Homo sapiens: one gene and its partners. The protein of the gene in region 1 purifies or fractionates together with the protein of each later gene. This does not show direct contact. Each region holds a gene or a part of one and is shown in the gene's direction. Other genes may lie near its edges.

Region 1 (3,500 bases):
CCCGGGTACAAGCCCCCTCTACCCCAGCCTCTCACGCCTGTTTCTCTCCCCGCCCTGGGGGCTCCTGCACCTGGCCTAAGGCTTGTGGCTGAGGCTGGGGGCCTCCTGGCTCAGGCTGGGGAGGGGCCAGAGCTGGGGGACCTGGAGATGCTCCTTGTCCCTGGCATCTTGGGAGGGAGCCCCGGGGCCTGCAGCACGGCTCACTGCCACCTGGACCTCACACTTGTGTTGGCGCTGCCTCAGGGTCTGCAGCCCCCGTGAAGCCGAGAACACCAGGCACCCCAGGAACCCTTTCTCAGCCCACCCGCAAGGACACCGGGCCCGAAGCTCTGGCGGCTCTCCTGCCCCTCCCTTGCTGGGTTCACCTGTGGGGTCCTGTAGAAGCTGGGCCACGCACTCCTTCCTGTGCACAGCGTTCTGTGGTGGGCCGGGCCCTTCCCAAGCATCCTCTCCCTCATCCTCAGTCCTCACACCCACTTCCCAGGAGGAGTCAGCCTGCAGCCCCTGCTGCCGGGCCAAGGGTTGGCCAGGCCGGGCTCCCCAACCTGAAACCTGGCAGGCAATCCCCTCCGGGGAGGTAGGGCCTGGCTGGGGCAGCCCCAGACCCTGTGGGGGCAGTGGCAGGATCCCCATGGAGGCCATGGCTGATTATTGTAAAATGTTTCGATTTAAATGAAAATATCAAAGTGATATTTAGGTCCTGCTTCTATTAGTGGAAGTGCTTACTGCTGCCTTTCCGTGTGTCCGCGCCGCGGCGCCCGCATGATGGATAGCAGCTTGTAATTATATATGGGAAAGCGCTGAGCCGGCCAGATCCAGCGGGGACAGGCGGCAGCCCGGGCCTGCGAGGGTTAATTTTATTCTCTAAATAATGTGAAAAGTGCTGAATCGTCACCTTGCGCCTGAAGTAGAAGTCCTCAAATGGGCCCCAGAGAGTTTATAATATTCCACTGAATCAAGTGAAATTGTTAACCTTGCTTCATAAAGCGATGGCTTGTTAAAGAGCCACATTCCCTTTCCTTGTGAATAATTTAGGCTGGGAGTAAATCTCCGCTCCTTCCCCTTTTGGGGGGCCACGGCTGTGGCTCAGGGGTCAACCTCTGCCAGATGCCGCCTGCCCTCCTAGATATCAGGACGGGGATGACTTCAGACTGCCTGTTTGTACACACCTGCGGGGTCTGCCACGTCCTGCCCAGACCCGGAGACGCAGAGTCCTCCCCAGTAGGCGTCCCTGTCCTGGTGCAGCGCTGTTTTCCTCCCTTGCCTCAGGCGCTCGCTCCATCCTTGTCAAAGGGATCTCCCCGGCTGATACGTCTTGCTGGGGGGAGACTCTGAGACTAGAAAACTCCACCTTCTCCCCTTAGTCTTAATAGCCAGCTGTGTCTGTCTGCTGTCAAATTCTGATCCGCGGCCGGCGTCCTTGAACGGAAGAGTTTTCCCTCCTCCGTGCTCACCGCTCGCCTGTTTGTCCACGGGTGTGTCCGGCTGTGTCCATTGCCGTCCCCTTTTAATATGCTGCCCTGCCAGGGCTCCTGCCCTTATGATGTGCCTGACAGTTTCTGCACCCTTGCTTGCTTTCTGGCACCCAGATGCTCCCAGCACCCGGCGGCTCTGGGACAGCCGCTCCTGGCTCCTTATGGGTGTGTTTAAGACTCAGGGTCTGGGCCGGGCGCGGTGGCTCACACCTGTAATCCCAACACTTTGGGAGGCCGAGGCAGGTGGATCACCTGAGGTCAGGAGTTCAAAACCAGCTTGGCCAACATGGTGAAACCCCATCTCTACTAAAAATACGAAAAGTTAGCCGGTTGTGGCGGCAAATGCCTGTAATCCCAGCTACTCGGGAGGCTGAGGCAGGAGAATTGCTGGAACCCGGGAGGTGGAGGTTGTGGTGAGCTGAGATTGCGCCACTGCACTCCAGCCTACGTGACAAGAGTGAGACTCTGTCTCAAAAAAAAAAAAAGAGACTCAGGGTCTGGGCGCTGCTCCTGGTGGCTCTAGGTGGGACAGCTGCTCCTGCAGGGCGCCCTGGTTCCTTCTGGGTGTGTTTAGGACTCAGGGTCTGGGCGCTGCGTGTGCTTGTTGCAGCTAGGGTGTTGGCTGCTGCCAGCGCCCCCAGTGCACAGGGCTGGGGAGCATCGTGTGCACGTGTGCAGGGGTGACAGTGACTCCATCCCCACCTCTGCATTGAGAGCTCCTGCACACCTTGGCCCTCCTGCATCTGCAGTGCCTGCTCCGTGAGCCTCCGCGCTGCCGTTTTCCCCACACCCTGTGTGTGGTTGGTGCCTGTCTGCAGGGAGCTGTCGGGAGAGGGAAGGCCCTGGCTGAGCCTTGGGTTTCAGCTCCCCAAGTGCGAGCTGAGACCTGAGTCACCTGGGATTCCCCTCACGCACACCCTGCCTTCATCCTCCAGGCTTGCAAGGGCTCCTGTGTCCTCTGGACAGCGCCTGTCTTGGTTTTGTTCACATACAGCGCTTCTCTGTTGGTGCCTTGCTTTCGCCAGTGCTGCCCTTTGTTAGGCCGAATCCTTCGTCCTTTATGAGGCAAGGTCCTGACATCCTTTGCCCTGTGATTTGTGCTCGGGGTCTTGTTTAGGACCAGTCTCCACCCATGGTCACAGAGTGCCTCCTGCATTGCCTGATGCTGGCTCAAGAGGCAGCTGTGGGTGTCGCTTGTCCCTGCACGGTTACTTCCTCCTCTGGCCTCAGTCTCCTTTTATATACAGTCGGGATAACGGCACTGCCTATCTCAGAGGGTCGTGGCGACTCTTCAGGGGGCCACAGTGGGCCTGGCAGTGTCCTGGGTGGCCCTGGCACAGGGAGGCCTCCCTACAAGTCGGCTGCCGTTTGCTGTTCTTCATTTGCGTGTTGTGTGAGGTGGGGCCTCACTTAGTTTTTCTTCATGTCGTGGGTGCTTTCCCTCAACGGTGATCTAACCCTTTGATCTGTGGTGTCAGCTTTAAAAAAAAAAAAAAAGCAGCTTAACTGAAGTACAGTTTCCCTCCCACACAATTCCTCTGCTCTAGGTGTATGGTTCTGTGGGTTTGAGTAAACTTAGAGTGGTACAGCTGCACCACAGCGCAGCTTTCAGTTGTTTTCATCGCCCCCCAGAATTCCCTCACTCTTTTCATCATCAGTCCCGGCCCCTAACACTCATCCACTTCTGTCTCGGTAAGTTTCTTCTGTGGGCCTTTCGTGTTGCTGGAATCATACAGTACATGGTTGTTTGGCATCTTTGATTTTGCATCATGTTTGGAGGTCTGTCCTGCAGCACCTCAGCGCTGCACCCGTTTTTATTACAGAGTCAAGCCGCTGCAGAGGCTCTCCACACTTTCTTTGTCCGTTCGGGTGGTTGCCAGTTGGGGGCTGTCGTGAATAATACTGCCTCGAATGTCCGCGCTCCAGCCTTTGTGTGGCCGATGCTTTTGCTTCTCTTGGGTAGACACCTAGGAGTGGAATTGCAGGGCCATAGGGTCACTGCAGGGCTACAGGGTCACTCTAGGT
Region 2 (3,500 bases), on another chromosome or scaffold:
CTTTAGGTTTGTGAAATGAAGAACTGTAATAAATGCATCTATTTTGAAGCTAAGAAAAAACAGGATCTCTATATGTGGTAAGAGAATGTATTAAGATTTTGGTTAAACTCATTTAAGTGGATTTGTTCTTTGTACCTTTTATGTTATAGACTCCTAGTGTTTCATGTTAAGGGTTGAGAATGAAGCAAACTTTTGATTTCACGAAACTTGATACCTTTAAAGAAAATTAAATGTATAAATATTATAAGCATATTATTTATGGTGAATAGGTGGTAAGCATTGACTACATTTGCTAATTAGTTGAAAAAGCTTACTCCATATCTTTCAGGCTTTCAAATTCACCTCACGGACCATCTGCTAAATTCCTTGTTCAAAATAGTAAGTTGACTCAATAAATTTTTTTAGATGAGGAAATTAAAAGTAATCTTTTGAAATAGTTGTGCAAAAGTTACAACTATTTTTGTTTTTGTTGTAATTTTTCTAGTTCATACCCTCGCTGAACTGAAGATGACTGGAAACTGTTTGAAAGGTTCTCGGCCCCTTTTGTCTTTTGACCCTGTAAGTTTCTCATTCAGTGTATGAGGTCTAATTTTCTTATCTGGCATGGTTGTTTTTAGTAGATATAGTTGTGTTATTCAATTTAGTTTCACCCCCACCTTGGTTTTATGGATTATCAATTCTTTCAGGTACATTTATAATGAGGTTATAGCCAAGTTATAGAAACAAATGAGCAAACAGTTTTAAACAAGGCAGTCTACTGTTAAATAATATGCTTACCTTATTTTTATAGGCTTTTGATGAATTACCACATTATGCTTTGTTAAAAGAACTCTTAATTCAGGTAAATATCTTTAAAATTAGCTATCCAAAATATACATGATATATCTTGGAATAAGGAACTAACATACACTTTTTTAACTAGATCTTTAGTACACCACGGTATCATCCCAAAAGCCAACCATTTGTGGACCACGTGTTTACTTTCACCATTTTGGATAATAGGATATGGTTTCGGAACTTTCAGGTAAGCTTTACTTGATTTTTAATTATACCTTTTTTTTAATTGAGTTTATTTATTTATGTTTTGAGACAGAGTCTCGCTCTTGTTGCCCAGGCTGGACTGCAGTGGCACAATCTTGGCTCACTGCAACCTCCACCTCCCGGGTTCAAGCTTCTGCTCCCTCAGTCTCCTGAGTAGCTGGGATTACAAGCACCCATCATCACGCCTGGCTAATTTTTGTAGTTTTAGTAGAGACGGGGTTTCGCCATGTTGGCCAGGCTGGTCTCAAACTCCTGACCTCAGGCCATCTGCCCGCCTTGGCCTCCCAAAGTGCTGGGATTCCAGGCGTGAGCCACTACACCCGGCCTAATTTTTTTTTTTAGAGATAGAGTGTCGCAGTGTTGCCTAGGTTGGCCTTGAACCTCCTGGCCTCAAATCATTCCTCCTCAGCATCTTGAGTAGGTGGGATTGCAGTTGTGAGCCACTGTGCCTGGTCAATTTTTAGTTAAACTTTTAGATAAGGATATACAGGGTTTGCATACACAAAAAATGCAAATAATTCTTTTGTTTTAAATAGCTTCCTTTTCCCTAAAGAGATTGCTGCAAGTAACTATGTACTGTCTTATATCTTAAGTGAGCTCTACCTACTTCTATTCATGACTGTTAGTTGATACAGAGTATGGATTTCCTAATAAGCCATTATATATTTAACTTTATAGAAAGGGAATAACTTGAAGATCCATGAGATACTTGGGTTCCTAATTTGTAGAAAGTGCTGTAAAGGATACAGTAAAATAGAAGTTTCTCTCTCAAAGCTTAGAAGTTTCTCTCTCAAAGCACCTCAAAGGTTAAGACCTAGCAAAATGTAATTGCTCTAGAAGGCATTCAATGGCAGCGGTTAGATGATGAGTCACACAGTGACTCATTCAGGAGAAAAGAGGAGGTGACTCTAGAAATCTTGAAGCAGGAGTTTGGCACGATAAGTGCAGAAAGATGAAGAGGTGGAAGAGAACAGCAAGAACAAAATTTTAGACAGTATATGACATAAACTGAGCTCTTTTCTGCATATTTTATATTGGATACCTGGCATGTGAGTTGAACACATCATCCTAACCTCTGAGGGTAGACATGCCTGAACTAATAGATAACATAAATATTTGTTGTTCGGAAGTTGCCTTTTAATTCCATAATCAGTAGCTATTAAATAAATTTGACTACATATCCTTTTAATCTAACTTGAATTAGATTTATAAAAACAATTTAGGGATTGATTTAAGTTTCAAGAGTTCCCCCATAATGTGCTTTAATACATTTTGTTAATAGTGGTTACTGTTTTAAAATCCTGTTTAACCAGTTTTTCAAGGATATATGCATTGTGACAAGCAAGATGTGAACCAAAATCTAATTACTCAATTTTAAAAGAACTCACTGAAAAAACATTTTTCCATGACAACTTCCTATAAGTACTAATAGATTTCAGAAAATATTGATGATTTGCCATTTACCAAGTTTCACCCCCACCTTGATTTTATGGATTATCAATTATTTCAGGCACATTTATAATGAGGTTATAGCCAGTATACCTTTTGGGAATAACGTAACCAAACCAAAATGAAATGTTTCCTTTTTATTAAAGATCATAGAAGAAGATGCTGCTCTTGTAGAAATAGGACCTCGTTTTGTCTTAAATCTCATAAAGATTTTCCAGGGAAGTTTTGGAGGACCAACTTTATATGAAAATCCTCACTACCAGTCACCAAACATGGTAAGCGGTTGTGTCATTCAGTAGTCTTCAATGTACCAGAACCCTTTGGCCAAAATGATTCTGTGAAGTAATTGCTGTTTTATTACCTGTGAAACTGAATTTGGTTTTTGCTGCATAGAAACTTGGAAATTACTCCCTTTTTTCATGACACTGGCTGAAAGGATATATGGTTCATAACTGAAAGTCTTTGCCTTATATAAAATGTTTATTTTTATTTCAAAAGCATCTAATCTTTTTTTTTTTTTTTTAGCATCGGCGTGTCATAAGATCCATCACAGCTGCAAAATACAGAGAGAAACAGCAAGTGAAAGATGTGCAAAAACTGAGAAAGAAAGAGCCGAAGACTCTTCTTCCACATGATCCCACTGCAGATGTTTTTGTAACACCAGCTGAGGAGAAACCAATAGAAATACAGTGGGTAAAACCAGAGCCAAAAGTTGATTTGAAAGCAAGAAAGAAACGGATTTACAAAAGGCAAAGAAAAATGAAACAGAGGATGGACAGTGGGAAAACAAAATAAGTCAATGGAAACCTGATTTGTTTTTCAGTTACTTTATATTTATTTTGTATTCAATGTGTAAATACTTTTATTATCTAATACTATCTTACGTCTAATTAGTGTAGCATTTACAAGAAAGAAAAATTAAGATCTTAAAATCAGTGATTATCTTTTTCTAAATAAAATATCACCAGAATTCATCAGTTAATTTCTGATTTCTTTTTGAAGTTTGTGTT
Region 3 (3,971 bases), on another chromosome or scaffold:
TTCTTAAATAGAATTATTTCAGATCATCACTTACTTAGATGTGTAGCTATATTAGGTCACAAGATTGTGTACTTATAATCATAAAACGTATACTTAATAATGAATCCCAACCTGACCTCAAAAGACTATATCATATAATACTATATTAACATTACATATTTATTGGTCGGGCACGGTGGCTTACGCCTGTAATCCCAGCACTTTGGGAGGCCGAGGTGGGTGGATCACGAGGTCAGGAGTTCAAGATCAGCCTGGCCAAGATGGTGAAACCCCGTCTCTACTAAAAATACAAAAAATTAGCCAGGCTTGGTGGTGGGTGCCTGTAATCCCAGCTACTTTAGAAGCTGAGGCAGGAGAATCGCTTGAACCTGGGAGGTGGAGGTTGCAGTGAGCCGAGATCGCACCACTGCACTCCAGCCTGGGTGACAGAGCAAAACTCCGTCTCAAAAATAAATAAGTAAAATAAAAATAAATAAATGAAAAATAAAATTACATATTTATTATGTTTTATATTGTTATATAATATAAAAAGTCGGTTTTTCGGGGTTTTTTGTTTGTTTGTTTGTTTGTTTGAGATAGTCTCGCTCTGTCACCCAGACTAGAGGGCAGTGGCGCGATCTCTGCTCACTGCAACCTCCACCTCCCGGGTTCAAGCGATTCTCGTGCCTAGGCCTCCCGAGTAGCTGGGATTACAGGTGAGCACATCAAGCCCAGCTAATTTTTTGTAATTTTAGTAGAGACGAGGTAAAAAGTAGAAAATATTTTATAAAAATATATTTGTGTAAAGTAGAACATATATAAAAACATACTAAAGGAGAAAGGAGAAAAAAATTCTTTCATTTATTTTTTTCCCAGGCATTTTAAATTTGGATTATAAAAATCATTTTAGAAAAATCATTAATGCTCTTTTACAAAATAACCCGGTGAAGCAGCTGAGCCCGAGCCGCCCGCCAGCGGCCCCGCAGCAGCTCCAAGAAGGAACTAAGAGACCAAGGCCTTCCTGCTGCCCGGACCCGACACCGCTACCCTGGCTCCCCGCCGGCAGCCGGCAGCCAGCGGCAGCGGATCGACCCCGTTCTGCGGCCGTTGAGTAGTTTTCGATTTCGGCTGATTTTTGTCCCTCTGCGCTTGCCCCCGCTCCCCTCCCTCCGGCTACGCCCCCGGCCCCGGCACGCGCTCTACTCCTGTAACGGAAAGGTCGCGGCTTGTGTGCCTGCGGGCAGCCGTGCCGAGAATGAACCCCAGCACCCCCAGCTACCCAACGGCCTCGCTCTACGTGGGGGACCTCCACCCCGACGTGACTGAGGCGATGCTCTACGAGAAGTTCAGCCCGGCAGGGCCCATCCTCTCCATCCGGATCTGCAGGGACTTGATCACCAGCGGCTCCTCCAACTACGCGTATGTGAACTTCCAGCATACGAAGGACGCGGAGCATGCTCTGGACACCATGAATTTTGATGTTATAAAGGGCAAGCCAGTACGCATCATGTGGTCTCAGCGTGATCCATCACTTCGAAAAAGTGGAGTGGGCAACATATTCGTTAAAAATCTGGATAAGTCCATTAATAATAAAGCACTGTATGATACAGTTTCTGCTTTTGGTAACATCCTTTCGTGTAACGTGGTTTGTGATGAAAATGGTTCCAAGGGTTATGGATTTGTACACTTTGAGACACACGAAGCAGCTGAAAGAGCTATTAAAAAAATGAACGGAATGCTCCTAAATGGTCGCAAAGTATTTGTTGGACAATTTAAGTCTCGTAAAGAACGAGAAGCTGAACTTGGAGCTAGGGCAAAAGAGTTCCCCAATGTTTACATCAAGAATTTTGGAGAAGACATGGATGATGAGCGCCTTAAGGATCTCTTTGGCAAGTTCGGGCCCGCCTTAAGTGTGAAAGTAATGACCGATGAAAGTGGAAAATCCAAAGGATTTGGATTTGTAAGCTTTGAAAGGCATGAAGATGCACAGAAAGCTGTAGATGAGATGAATGGAAAGGAGCTCAATGGAAAACAAATTTACGTTGGTCGAGCTCAGAAAAAAGTGGAACGGCAGACGGAACTTAAGCGCACATTTGAACAGATGAAGCAAGATAGGATCACCAGATACCAGGTTGTTAATCTTTATGTGAAAAATCTTGATGATGGTATTGATGATGAACGTCTCCGGAAAGCGTTTTCTCCATTTGGTACAATCACTAGTGCAAAGGTTATGATGGAAGGTGGTCGCAGCAAAGGGTTTGGTTTTGTATGTTTCTCCTCCCCAGAAGAAGCCACTAAAGCAGTTACAGAAATGAACGGTAGAATTGTGGCCACAAAGCCATTGTATGTAGCTTTAGCTCAGCGCAAAGAAGAGCGCCAGGCTTACCTCACTAACGAGTATATGCAGAGAATGGCAAGTGTACGAGCTGTGCCCAACCAGCGAGCACCTCCTTCAGGTTACTTCATGACAGCTGTCCCACAGACTCAGAACCATGCTGCATACTATCCTCCTAGCCAAATTGCTCGACTAAGACCAAGTCCTCGCTGGACTGCTCAGGGTGCCAGACCTCATCCATTCCAAAATAAGCCCAGTGCTATCCGCCCAGGTGCTCCTAGAGTACCATTTAGTACTATGAGACCAGCTTCTTCACAGGTTCCACGAGTCATGTCAACGCAGCGTGTTGCTAACACATCAACACAGACAGTGGGTCCACGTCCTGCAGCTGCTGCTGCTGCTGCAGCTACCCCTGCTGTGCGCACGGTTCCACGGTATAAATATGCTGCGGGAGTTCGCAATCCTCAGCAACATCGTAATGCACAGCCACAAGTTACAATGCAACAGCTTGCTGTTCATGTACAAGGTCAGGAAACTTTGACTGCCTCCAGGTTGGCATCTGCCCCTCCTCAAAAGCAAAAGCAAATGTTAGGTGAACGGCTCTTTCCTCTTATTCAAGCCATGCACCCTACTCTTGCTGGGAAAATCACTGGCATGTTGTTGGAGATTGATAATTCAGAACTTCTTTATATGCTCGAGTCTCCAGAGTCACTCCGTTCTAAGGTTGATGAAGCTGTAGCTGTACTACAAGCCCACCAAGCTAAAGAGGCTACCCAGAAAGCAGTTAACAGTGCTACCGGTGTTCCAACTGTTTAAAATTGATCAGAGACCACGAAAAGAAATTTGTGCTTCACCGAAGAAAAATATCTAAACATCGAGAAACTATGGGAAAAAAAATTGCAAAATCTAAAATAAAAAATGCAAAATCTAAAATAAAAAATGGAAAGGAAACTTTGAACCTTATGTACCGAGCAAATGCAAGGTCTAGCAAATATAATGCTAGTCCTAGATTACTTATTGATTTAAAAACAAAAAAAAGATTACTTAATTTTGATTTAAAAACAAAAAATCGTAAAATACAAAAACCAGTTAATGTTTTGTAGACCCTGGGAAAAGAATTTTCAGCAAAGTACAAAAATTTAAAGCATTCCTTTAATTTTTTAATTCTTTACTGTGGAATAGCTCAAAATGTCCATTCTGTTTTAAGTAACAGAATTGATAACTGAGCAAGGAAACATGGTTTGGATTATAAAATTCTTGCTTTAATAAAAATTTCTTAAACAGTGAAAAAAAGAAAAATCATCAATTTTACTAATAGTCTTTCTTTACATTTTCTATTATTCTATCTCCCACTATATTTCAAATATGAAAATCACTTTTTCACCAAAATTTTAGGTCTTTACATAATAGTGTTTATTTTTAATATTCATAAATGAAAATATGCAATGACAAAATAGTAATTATAAATTCAGTAACATTTGTTCAAAATTGTAAGACAATTATTAATTTATACTGCATTATTTTTAAATAAAAAATAAATACATAGTTTTAAAAATCTAATTGAACAGGAGGCTAAACATGGTTCTGATCACAGAGATAATCACTTTTAATCATTTGGTTTTAGTGTTTCTGGTAGTTGATTTTCTTCAATAATAAT
Region 4 (2,699 bases), on another chromosome or scaffold:
GCAGAGGTTGCGGTGAGCCGAGATCGCGCCATTACACTCCAGCTTGGGCAACAAGAGTGAAACTCCGTCTTAAAAAAAAAATTTTATATATATATAAATCTTTTCCTCCAAAGTAGCTTTTATGACTTTGCTTAGCCTTAAATCTTACCAGGCAATGTTAGGGGCGTCTTTATCTGTACTTCAGAGTCTTTAGGACACATGTTTATGCAGGTAAACTTTTACCTTGCTGTGTTTGCTAATGGAGAGCCTCAAGAACACTCAAAGGCAAAAACTGTTTTCTAATTACCTCTATACCCAGTGAATGCCTGGGATTATACTCTACTTCGTAAATATGTAAGCGAAGATTCCCATGAATGGCAAAATCCACCAGTAGGTGATGATACCTATGTTATGATTGGGTAAATTTTGGGGTGAAAGGGGTGTTCCTTATAAAATATTGCAGTTGAAGACAGCAGGGAGAGGAGTGCCTGTATTAGTTAACACATAGTTTGACTATATTTTTAGACGATTTCCTTGATTGGAGAGGATGGCACTTAATATTAAAGATGGTGTCCTGGCTAGGTGCCATGGCTCACACCTGTAATCTCAGTATTTTGGGAGGCTGAGCTGGGAAGATAATTCTTGAGACCAGCCTGGGTAATGTAGTGAGACCCTGTCTCTACCAAAAAAAAAAAAAAAAAAAAGCCAGATGTAGTGGCATGCACCTGTAGGAATTCAAAGTTACAGTGAGTTGTTAATTGCACCACTGCACTCCAGCCTAGGCAGTAGAGCAAGACCCTATCTTAAGAGGGAAAAAAAAAAGATGGTGTCCTGTATTATTTTTTTCATACTCTTACAGAAGGCTGAATTAAGAAAAACCAGAAAATCAACAATAGAAGATCACTTGTTTTTCTGCTTTTAATTAGGTCATTCTGAATAGCTGGCATTGCTTTTCTGATGGAAGGCAGTATATAGTTTAGACTATAGGTTTTAGAGCCATACAGACTAGATTTTAAATACTTGTGCCATTTAATAGCTGTGGGGCCTTAGACAAGTCAGCTAACCTTTCCAAGCCTGTTTGCTCAGCAATAAAATGTAGCTAATAGCCACTAGGGGGTTAGCACAGTGTAATAGCTAAGACTCTGTCTATAGTTAGAAAGTTCTAAATCATTTGGGGTTCTTTTTTTCAATGTTCCTTGTCTTTCTGCAGTGTACTTTTGGCAGCTATAATGTATTAGCTTTGGTCTAAAGTTCATCTAAAATTATACCTGGTGGTTTTTTTGCTTTATGTTTTTTGTTTTCTTTTTTTTAAAGAATACGTGGTCTTTTAAAGGGAGTATTTTTCATGTGCGTTGGTTGGATTAACTTCCATTTGCTTTGATTTCTAGGGTGTTTGCTTTGATGTACCTACCGCATCAGTAACAGAAATACAGGTATTCTTTTCCCTTAGATTTTAAAGTTAACATACCTAAATTGTAGAATGTTAATTATGAAAATAGAGAATAATAGATTGGGAAACAATAGTTCTGGTTCCTTTAGTAAGAGATAATCGATAATTAAATTTTGGAATATTCCCCCCTAACTTTTTAATTCTGATATTTTTGTAGTTGAACCCACCTGGTTTCTATATTTCCTTTATACAAAGTTGTGAACGATATCCAGCTCTCCCCACCCTTTAACACTTATATATGGTATATAGATTTTGTGTGTGTGTGTGTGTGTGTGCATGTGTGTGTGTGTTTTCAGACAGAGTCTCGCTCTGTCGCCCAGGCTGGAGTGCAGTGGTGCAATCTCGGTTCACTGCTACCTCCGCCTCCCGGGTTCAAGCGATTCTCTTGCCTCAGCTTCCCAAGTAGCTGGGATTATAGGCCCATCACTACCCCCAGCTAATTTTTTGTATTTTTAGTAGAGACGGGGGTTTCGCCATGTTGGCCAGGCTGGTCTCGAACTCCTGACCGCGGGTGATCCACCCACCTCCCAAAGTGCTGGAATTACAGGCATGAGCCACCACGTCCAGCCTACAGGTTTTCATAGACATTTAAAATTGTTACATCTTTATTCAATACTGTGAGAAATGTGTGCTTAATATATTTGTTTTATTACCTTTGGCTGTAGATACCCTGTAGCAATTGAGTTGAATAAATGGTTTAATAACTTAATAAATGAAGTAGTGATGAGGGCTATTTCTCATAATGAAACTGTGTTTTCCCACACTTCAGGGACACTGGCTTTTGGACCATGATGGGTGGCCAGTGTTATTTTTGACCAGTGACTTGTTAAGCACTTATGTTATCACCTTTTCTTTGAAGAAGTGGCAAATATTTTGTTTTTCTCATGCTTTTTAAAAATTGAATACTAATTAAAGCACACAAAAACAAAACATTCTCTCAACAGGAGAAATGGCATGATTCACGACGCTGGCAGCTCTCTGTGGCCACAGAGCAACCAGAACTGGAAGGACCACGGGAAGGATATGGAGGCTTCAGGGGACAGCGGGAAGGCAGTCGAGGCTTCAGGGGACAGCGGGACGGAAACAGAAGATTCAGAGGACAGCGGGAAGGCAGTAGAGGCCCGAGAGGACAGCGATCAGGAGGTGGCAACAAAAGTAACAGATCCCAAAACAAAGGCCAGAAGCGGAGTTTCAGTAAAGCATTTGGTCAATAATTAGAAATAGAAGATTTATATAGCAAAAAGAGAATGATGTTTGGCAATATAGAACT

Evidence for each region.
Region 2: the proteins of ZC3H3 (region 1) and BRIX1 purify together in Homo sapiens (affinity purification with mass spectrometry; 3 studies listed by BioGRID and IntAct, with this or other methods). This does not show direct contact.
Region 3: the proteins of ZC3H3 (region 1) and PABPC3 purify together in Homo sapiens (affinity purification with mass spectrometry; 3 studies listed by BioGRID and IntAct, with this or other methods). This does not show direct contact.
Region 4: the proteins of ZC3H3 (region 1) and DDX21 purify together in Homo sapiens (affinity purification with mass spectrometry; 3 studies listed by BioGRID and IntAct, with this or other methods). This does not show direct contact.

Annotation. Positions count from the first base shown.
Region 1 is NC_000008.11:143,461,448-143,464,947, reverse strand, and holds part of ZC3H3 (zinc finger CCCH domain-containing protein 3), read left to right. Parts: intron 1-3,500. UniProt on the Homo sapiens protein: Required for the export of polyadenylated mRNAs from the nucleus. Enhances ACVR1B-induced SMAD-dependent transcription. Binds to single-stranded DNA but not to double-stranded DNA in vitro. Involved in RNA cleavage.
Region 2 is NC_000005.10:34,922,211-34,925,710, forward strand, and holds part of BRIX1 (ribosome biogenesis protein BRX1 homolog), read left to right. Parts: intron 1-6; coding exon 7-77; intron 78-328; coding exon 329-378; intron 379-484; coding exon 485-558; intron 559-790; coding exon 791-841; intron 842-922; coding exon 923-1,024; intron 1,025-2,636; coding exon 2,637-2,765; intron 2,766-3,015; coding exon 3,016-3,285; 3' UTR 3,286-3,500. UniProt on the Homo sapiens protein: Required for biogenesis of the 60S ribosomal subunit.
Region 3 is NC_000013.11:25,094,965-25,098,935, forward strand, and holds the start of PABPC3 (polyadenylate-binding protein 3), read left to right. Parts: upstream 1-1,171; 5' UTR 1,172-1,234; coding exon 1,235-3,130; 3' UTR 3,131-3,971. UniProt on the Homo sapiens protein: Binds the poly(A) tail of mRNA. May be involved in cytoplasmic regulatory processes of mRNA metabolism. Binds poly(A) with a slightly lower affinity as compared to PABPC1.
Region 4 is NC_000010.11:68,980,170-68,982,868, forward strand, and holds part of DDX21 (nucleolar RNA helicase 2), read left to right. Parts: intron 1-1,367; coding exon 1,368-1,412; intron 1,413-2,373; coding exon 2,374-2,643; 3' UTR 2,644-2,699.